Homo sapiens: one gene and its partner. The protein of the gene in region 1 purifies or fractionates together with the protein of each later gene. This does not show direct contact. Each region holds a gene or a part of one and is shown in the gene's direction. Other genes may lie near its edges. The genes, in order: SLC36A2 and ADPGK.

What was found.
Region 2: the proteins of SLC36A2 (region 1) and ADPGK purify together in Homo sapiens (affinity purification with mass spectrometry; one large-scale study listed by BioGRID and IntAct). This does not show direct contact.

The regions. Positions count from the first base shown.
Region 1 is NC_000005.10:151,326,785-151,330,602, reverse strand, and holds part of SLC36A2 (proton-coupled amino acid transporter 2), read left to right. Parts: intron 1-3,818. UniProt on the Homo sapiens protein: Electrogenic proton/amino acid symporter with a high selectivity for the small side chains amino acids glycine, alanine and proline, where both L- and D-enantiomers are transported.
Region 2 is NC_000015.10:72,755,986-72,759,803, reverse strand, and holds part of ADPGK (ADP-dependent glucokinase isoform 4 precursor), read left to right. Parts: intron 1-1,514; coding exon of another isoform or gene 1,515-1,739; intron 1,740-3,356; coding exon 3,357-3,553; intron 3,554-3,818. UniProt on the Homo sapiens protein: Catalyzes the phosphorylation of D-glucose to D-glucose 6-phosphate using ADP as the phosphate donor. GDP and CDP can replace ADP, but with reduced efficiency.

The DNA.
Region 1 (3,818 bases):
TTCTTGAAATCCCATTTCCTTCTGGCATCATTTCCCTTCAGCATGAAGAACCTTCATTAACATTTCTTTTAAAGCAGGTCTACTAGTGACAAATTATCTTCATTTTCTTGATCTGAGATTGTCTTTATTTTGCCTTTATTCCTAGAGGATATTTTTGCACAATATGGAATTCTAGGTGGACAATTTTTTTCATCATTTTGAAAATATGACTTCCTTTCTTTTTGCCCTCAGTGGTTTCTGATGAGAAATCTGCAATTGTTTGAATCCTTGTTCTCCTATGTGTTTTTCTCTGGTTGCTTTCATAACTTTTTAAAATCTTCTTTAATCAGCAGTTATACTGTATTATATTTAATATAGTTTCTTTGAGTTTGCCCTCTACGAGATTTCTTGAATCTGTAAAAGTTTGTCTTTTACCTAATTTACCTAATTTCAGCCATTATTTTTTTCAAAGGTTTTTTCTTCACCAATCTCTTTTTCTTCTCCATCGGAGATCCCAATAACCTGAATGCTAGACTTTTTGATATATAGTCATCGCTTAGCATATATAGGACATTGGTTCCAGGACCCCGCTCCCCCACCCCCCTAAACACACACACCCAGTGTATAACCAATCTGTGCCTACTCAAGTCCTGCAGGTGGCCCTGCAGAACCTGAGTATATGAAAAGTCAGCCCTCCATACATACAGGTTTTGCAGCCCATGAATACTGCAGTTTTGATGTGCATTTGGTTGAAAATATCCACCTATTTGAGGGCCTGCGCGGTTCAAACCCATGTTGTTCAAGAGTCAACTGTATATCCCACAGGTTTCTGAGGCTCTATTCATTTTTTTAAAAAAATCTCTTTGCTCTTTGTTGTTCAGATTTTGTCATTCCTGTTTATCCTCAAATTTACTGAGTTTGTTTTCTGTTATCTACATTCCGCTATCAAGCCCCTACAGTCAGTTATTTAAATTTTTCTTATTTTCCAGTTATAATATTTCCATTTGTTTCTTTTACATTGTGTCTACTTTGCTAAGAACTTGTATCTGTCCATTTATTTTAATAGCGTTCTCCCTTACTTTTTGGAGTACGGTTATATTACCTGCTTTAAAGTCTTTGCCTAATATTGCCAACATTTGAGTCATCTTAAGGTTGGCATCTGTTGTCTTTTCTCTTGAAAGTTGATGAGATTTTTCTGGTTCTTTGTAGGCTGAATAATTTTAAACTGTATCCTATGCATTTTGAATATTATTTTAGGAGACTCTTCAGAATGCTGATTTTTGGTTTTAGCAAACCATCTACCTAGTTAGATTCAGCTCATAAGTCCTTGCTCACCTTCTGTGGGCCATGGTTCCAATATCCAGTTAGTTTTCAAAGCCCATGAAGTGATATTTGGCTCTACCCTGCTCATGTGCTACACAGTGCCAATTGGCAGACAGGACTCTACACAGTAGTTCAGTTTTCAAAGCCTTTGCTTTGATGCTTCCCATCAGTTCCACATATGTACAGCTCAGGGCTGGGCCCAGGATATTATTCACAGATTTTAGGAGATTGCTTTTTCCAGTTTCCTCTTCTCTGTGTTTTCCCGCACACTCGCCAGCTCGCAGTGGGTTCTTTTTCCCATCCTCTGGCTAGAAATCTAGGCTTTTAGCCTCCTACACTGTCATGTACTTCCTGTGACCAAGTCTGCCTCTGGGGTTGAGCAATGAGTGAAAAGAGAAAGAAAAAGCACAATAGTGATTCTTTCCTGGACCAGTTTCGTGAGCAGGCAAATCATGCAGCCACATAGGGTCCAACCTTCAGAAGAATCTCACACTTAGTTTAACACTCTGCTGGAACCATCTTTCACCAAGGAACCCTGCATTTTCATTTTGTACTGGGGCCCATAAATTAGGTAGCCAGTACTGATTTCCCACACTCTTCAGACTCCTAAAGCCAATTTTCCTAGTACTTCTGTGTAGAGATAAGGATTTCTATCTCAGATTTTTAGGTGCCTGTGTGACCACTACAGCCACTGATACACCAGAATGCTGCTTAGTGACTAGGACTTGCCTTGAGGTCATGGCCTGGAGATAAAACAAAGAAACAGAAAAATAGAGATTCTCTCCACGCTCTTCATCCCACAGGGGACCCTATTCTAAGTCATCTGTCCAAAAAGAAGTTTCTCTTGGTGTTATTTTCTGTCTGTATGCACCGCATAGTTCTAAGATTTGGGTGTCCCTTGAGGTTAAAAACTAGGATGTATGGGAAGAAGAAAATCAGGAAACTCACCACCATGACAGTCATTTTTTCTTTTTGATTTCCTTCCCCATTCTGCCTGCTACTATTTACTCTTCAGGACCTGTGCATAATTGCTTTATGTATTTCATCCACGATTTTTAGTTGTATTAGTGAAAGAGATATTGTGAAGTGTGCTTACTTCATCTAGATGGAACTGGAAGCACTTTGTTTTTAGAATTTGGAATAGTCATGGACAAAAGCAGAGTGCAGCAGTTGAGCAGGTAACTTTGGAGGCAGAATGTGCTGGAATCTTGCTTTGGCCAGGGCTACTCTCTGAACTCTAATTCTCCACCTCTAAACTGATGACAATATTTGTTCAGTAAGTATTTCTTGAATGCCTATTATGTGCTTGTGATTCTTAGTATTAGTTGAAATTATCTTAAGAAGAACTCTGCTAGCCCAGTCTCCAATTTTACAGAAGAGGGAGAGCCCCAGAGAGAGAAGGTGACTTCAGTTAGATCACCAGCTAGGAACTGTGCAGATGTGAATAAAACCTAGTACGTCTGACTCTCCATCCAGGGACCTTCCCACTGTACGTCAACAGCCATTTATCTCTTTGACTGACTGATTGTGGAGAGAGAGAGAGAGAGAAAGAAAGGAAGCCAGCTACCCAGTCTGAGCAGGCCTTGTGAAAAGATCATTTTTGGCCTTGAGAATATATGCAGCAAAATTGTGTTACAGGGTGCAAGAGCTCAGGTTGGATTGTCTGCTCTCCATACAATTATTGTATAATCATCAAACATCCTCCTGAGCACCTGCTGCAACGAGACCTAATCCAGAAGAAAGTGGAAAGGCATGGGGAGGACCCAACATGACACTGCCCTCAAGCATCTTCCAAATGCCTGGAATAGAGAGAGGGTTAGGGAGTTTCAGGGCTGGAAGTTTGCATGTACGACAGAAAAGAATTCAACAGTACAAGGGAAAAGATGCTAAATTCCTTAGTAACAAATATACCCATTGCTATAGGAGTAGAAGCAGGTACTTGGACTTTGGATAACAGCCCTGGTCTACAACCTGAATCTGACACTTTCTGGTTCTGCAACTTGGGATCAGTTATCTCATTTTCAGAGCCTTGTTTTCCTCATCTGTAAAACAAGAATTATGGAGGTACCGACTTCATAGAGTTACGGTCTTCACAGTATTAAAAAATAACAACCGCCAACATTTACTAAGCCCTTAACTGTGCCATTATGGTGCTTGTGTAATTCTCTACAAAATTTGCAAAATTCAGCCACATGTGATGTCTCTCGCCTGTAATCCCAGCACTTTGGGAGGCCGATGTGGGAGGATCGCTTGAGCCCAAGAGTTCAAGACCAGTGTGAGCAACATGGCAAAACTCTGTTTCTACAAAAAAAATACAAAAATCAGCCGGGCATGGCAGCACATGCCTATAGTCCCAGCTCCTCAGGAGGCTGAGATGGGAGGGATCTCTTGAGCTCGGGAGGCAGAGGTTGCAGTGAACTGTGATTGTACTACTGCACTCCAGCCTGGGTGACAGAGTGAGACTCTCCAAAAAAGAAAAAAAAAAAAAGGTAAATTCATTTGAGCCCGTTTTCAGA
Region 2 (3,818 bases), on another chromosome or scaffold:
ATCTGGTTTCTGAGAGAATATTAAATACTTGGACATACTTTGATCCTGTGTATTTCCTGCTGTAATTTTCCCTCTGCTCAGAACTCAGACTCTTGAGTTTCTGATTCAACACATTGTTAATACACATTAAAGACTCAAGCATCTAAACAGACTAATTGGTACCTTAAAGCAGCACTTAATACTCTTCAGTGAACTACTTCCAAGTCAATTAAGAGAATCTTCTCTACTAGAGTAATTAACTTTAACATAAGATATGAACTATGTTATTTCTTGAGAATTATGCCTTTCTCCAGGTAGAAAAAAGAGTTGTAACATGTTCTGGTTCTCTTTCGGGTGCTTACTAGAATCAGTTGGGAATTAAAGAAGGATAGGGTCTGAAAATTAGGGACACAGCGTTGACGTAGGCAATTCATACTTAATGCTACACAAGTTTTTGAGTTTCTCAGCTTTAGTTTTCCCAAATGGGAAGTAAGAGTAATAGTTTTTACTGCCTGATCATTGTGGTAAGGATTAAGAGATTGGTTGGTGTGCGGAAACATTGTGAGCAGCTTGGATGAAAAGATGACCTGGCCGCACGTGGTGGCTCATGCCTGTAATCCCAGAACTTTGTGAGGCTGAAGCGGGTGGATCACAAGGTCAGGAGTTCAAGACCAGCCTGGCCAAGATGGTGAAACCCCGTCTCTACTAAAAATACAAAAATTAGCCAGGTGTGGAGGCGGGCGCCTATAATCCCAGCTACTCAGTAGGCTGAGGCAGAGAATTGCTTGAGCCTGGGAGGCGGAGGTTGCAGTGAACTGAGATTGCACCACTGCACTCCAGTCTGGGCAACAGAGCGAGACTCCGTCTCAAAAAATAATAATAATAAATAAATAAAAGAATGACCTGACTGTGGACTGGAAGGGTCTGGAATTGCTAAAGATGAGCCCCTGAGGTATTGCTGCCATGAGTTCCAGATTCGTGTCAGTTTTTTTGGCACCCACAGCAGGAACTGGGGACCTTTGTGATTCCTGGTTTGTCATTTTTCCTGGTGACTACAGAGTGGAGAGTCTTACGTCTTCAGCAAGACTTTGATGTTGTATTGGACAGCTGTGCCTCGTATGTAGTTAAGGAGACAGCACAGTTCACCGCACAAAGAGAGTGTCTCCATCCTTGGGTTTATAAGCTTCACACTTCAGTTTTTCTTTCCTATGCCTCTTCTGCATACAAAGCAGTGGACTTCCATTAAACTTTGTGAGGTGACATTTTCCTAGGTCCAAGGAGGGAGCCTAGTCTAGTGGCAGTAGCCCTGGGCTCAGCTCTCTCAACAGAAATCCATTCCCAGCTTGTCTCTGACCTCAATAGGGAAATTCCAAGGGATTTGTCCATTTTTTTTTCCACATTCTCTCTTACCAGATCTCCCCAGAGAAGCCCATTGTCAGGCTTGGGCTGGGAATCCAGTGAGTCACTACGCAGAGGTTTTGCTGACTTACTGGCTGAGGGCAGGATGATACATTGAGAAGAGATTGCTTACAGGAATGAATACAACACTTTGTGAGGAAAGAGGGGCGCTAACTACCATTACAGGCAGAATTAGATCCATTTGCATCTGCCCCCTGCATGGCCTCTCCAACGGGGCCATGAATATGCTGGAGGTGTTTGTGTCTAGCCTGGAGGAGTTTCAGCCAGACCTGGTGGTCCTTTCTGGATTGCACATGATGGAGGGACAAAGCAAGGAGCTCCAGAGGAAGAGACTCTTGGAGGTAATGGCACTGTTACAGAATTTCACAGATCTCAGCTGGTGGTTTTCTTCAGGTTCCAGCCTCTCTTGGCATCTGCTGCCTTGTTTCCTGTGGAAACAGCAAGCAGCTCTGCACGGTTCTTCTCATCCTTGCCTTGCAGAAGAGCCTGTTTATTTTTGCCTCTGTCACTTCCTGAAGAAATCAGTGTATTTTCAATACAGTGTGGCTCCTTTCTCCTAGGTTCAGTTAGGTCGTGTTTCCTAGCAGTGTCACTATTCAAGGGTTGAGTCCACGTCTTGCTCTCTGGAGAATGTCAATGTAATGTATTTTTCCCATCGTACAGAGTCTTTGTTGATTTGCAAAATGTTGGATTTGGGGTTCATACCCATATTTTTTGTTGTCATGGGCATTTAGGTCATCAGTCTGTTCTCTTATTTGCTTGTTCTTTTGTTAATTCATTCCCATGGCTATATGCCAGACACAGCATGATGCAGAAGGAATACGACAGAGGATGACACAGGCCCTGCCCTCAGCTCACAGTTTACTGCCAGAGATAGACACTTGGAAAAAGTAATTGCAGGCCGGGCATGGTGGCTCACGCCTGTAATCCCAGCACTTTGGGAGGCTAAGGCAGGCAGATCACCTGAGGTCAGGAGTTTAAGACCAGCCTGGCCAACATGGTGAAACTCCGTCTCTACTGAAAATACAAAAATTAGCCAGGCGTGGTGGCGGGTACCTGTAATCCCAGCTACTCGGGAGGCTGAGGCAGGAGAATCGCTTGAACCTGGGAGGCAGAGGTTGCAGTGAGCTGAGGTCGCGCCATTGCGCTCCAACCTGGGCAACAGAGTGAAACTCCATCTCAGAAGAAAAAAAAAAAAAAAAAAGGAAAAAAGAAAAAGGAATTGCAAAATCATGTGCCTCAGTCCTGTATTAGGGTACAGTGGTGGCCCCAGAAAGGAGGTAATCAAGTCTGCTTAGGGGTGGTAGGATTAGGAAAGGCTTCATGTTTAGGGAGGAACTAGCACTTGAACTTGGGTCTTTAAACAGTCATTCCTCTAAAGCAACTCACATAGAAGCAACTGGAGCAGCTAGATAGTCTGATCCTTTGGATCAGGTGCCCAGAAACCACTGATGGGCAGCAGGGAAGAGGAGATGCAGTGAGCTTGGCTGTTGGGAAGAAATTCAGCCTGCTTAAGTTCCAACTGAATGAAAGATGCTCAGGGCAATGCTGTGAGGAAGAATGTGCTTTAAACAATGACAGCCTATACTGTCTGCAGGGCGTGCGTGCTGCACACTGTATGCTGGTATTTGGAAGTCATGCTGCCATTCTGTACTGTCTCTCCTGTGTTTGAGAGCTCAAGTAGGGCTCTCCTGGGACTCAGGGGGAGCTAATTACCTTGAAAAAGGCATATAGCACCCATACTATGTTTCTGTTTCTTGGCTGGGTTTGGGTTTAGGTTTTTGGTTTGTTTCTTGCAGTGCCATGCTGACCTTAGGCCATTGTTGCTGGGGTCTCCTCAGCCAGAAACCAGCCTGCTTGGAGCCAAGGCTCCTGTGAGGTGCCTGAAAGTGCCCCCACAGCTAGGAGACCTAAAGCCTCTTCCTTTTCTTCCCATTGTGTTGACTGGGTTTTTCCAGGGGAGGAGTGGGGCCAGTTAAAAGCTCCCCATGCCAACCGATTCATCTTCTCTCACGACCTCTCCAACGGGGCCATGAATATGCTGGAGGTGTTTGTGTCTAGCCTGGAGGAGTTTCAGCCAGACCTGGTGGTCCTCTCTGGATTGCACATGATGGAGGGACAAAGCAAGGAGCTCCAGAGGAAGAGACTCTTGGAGGTAATGGCACTGTTACAGAATTTCACAGATCTCAGCTGGTGGTTTTCTTCAGGTTCCAGCCTCTCTTGGCATCTGCTGCCTTGTCTTAGGTCCTGGCCTCCCAGGGACATATCTTGGCAGCTGGCTGTGGAGCTTGCCTCCTGCTGCAGTGAGGCACCTCACTGTATCCCTTCAGATGTGGGCAGCAGCTTGAGTAGGACAGGGCAGAACATCTTCTTGCCTGAGCCTCTGCATCCTGTGCTAAACCGACCATGGCTGCAAGCTG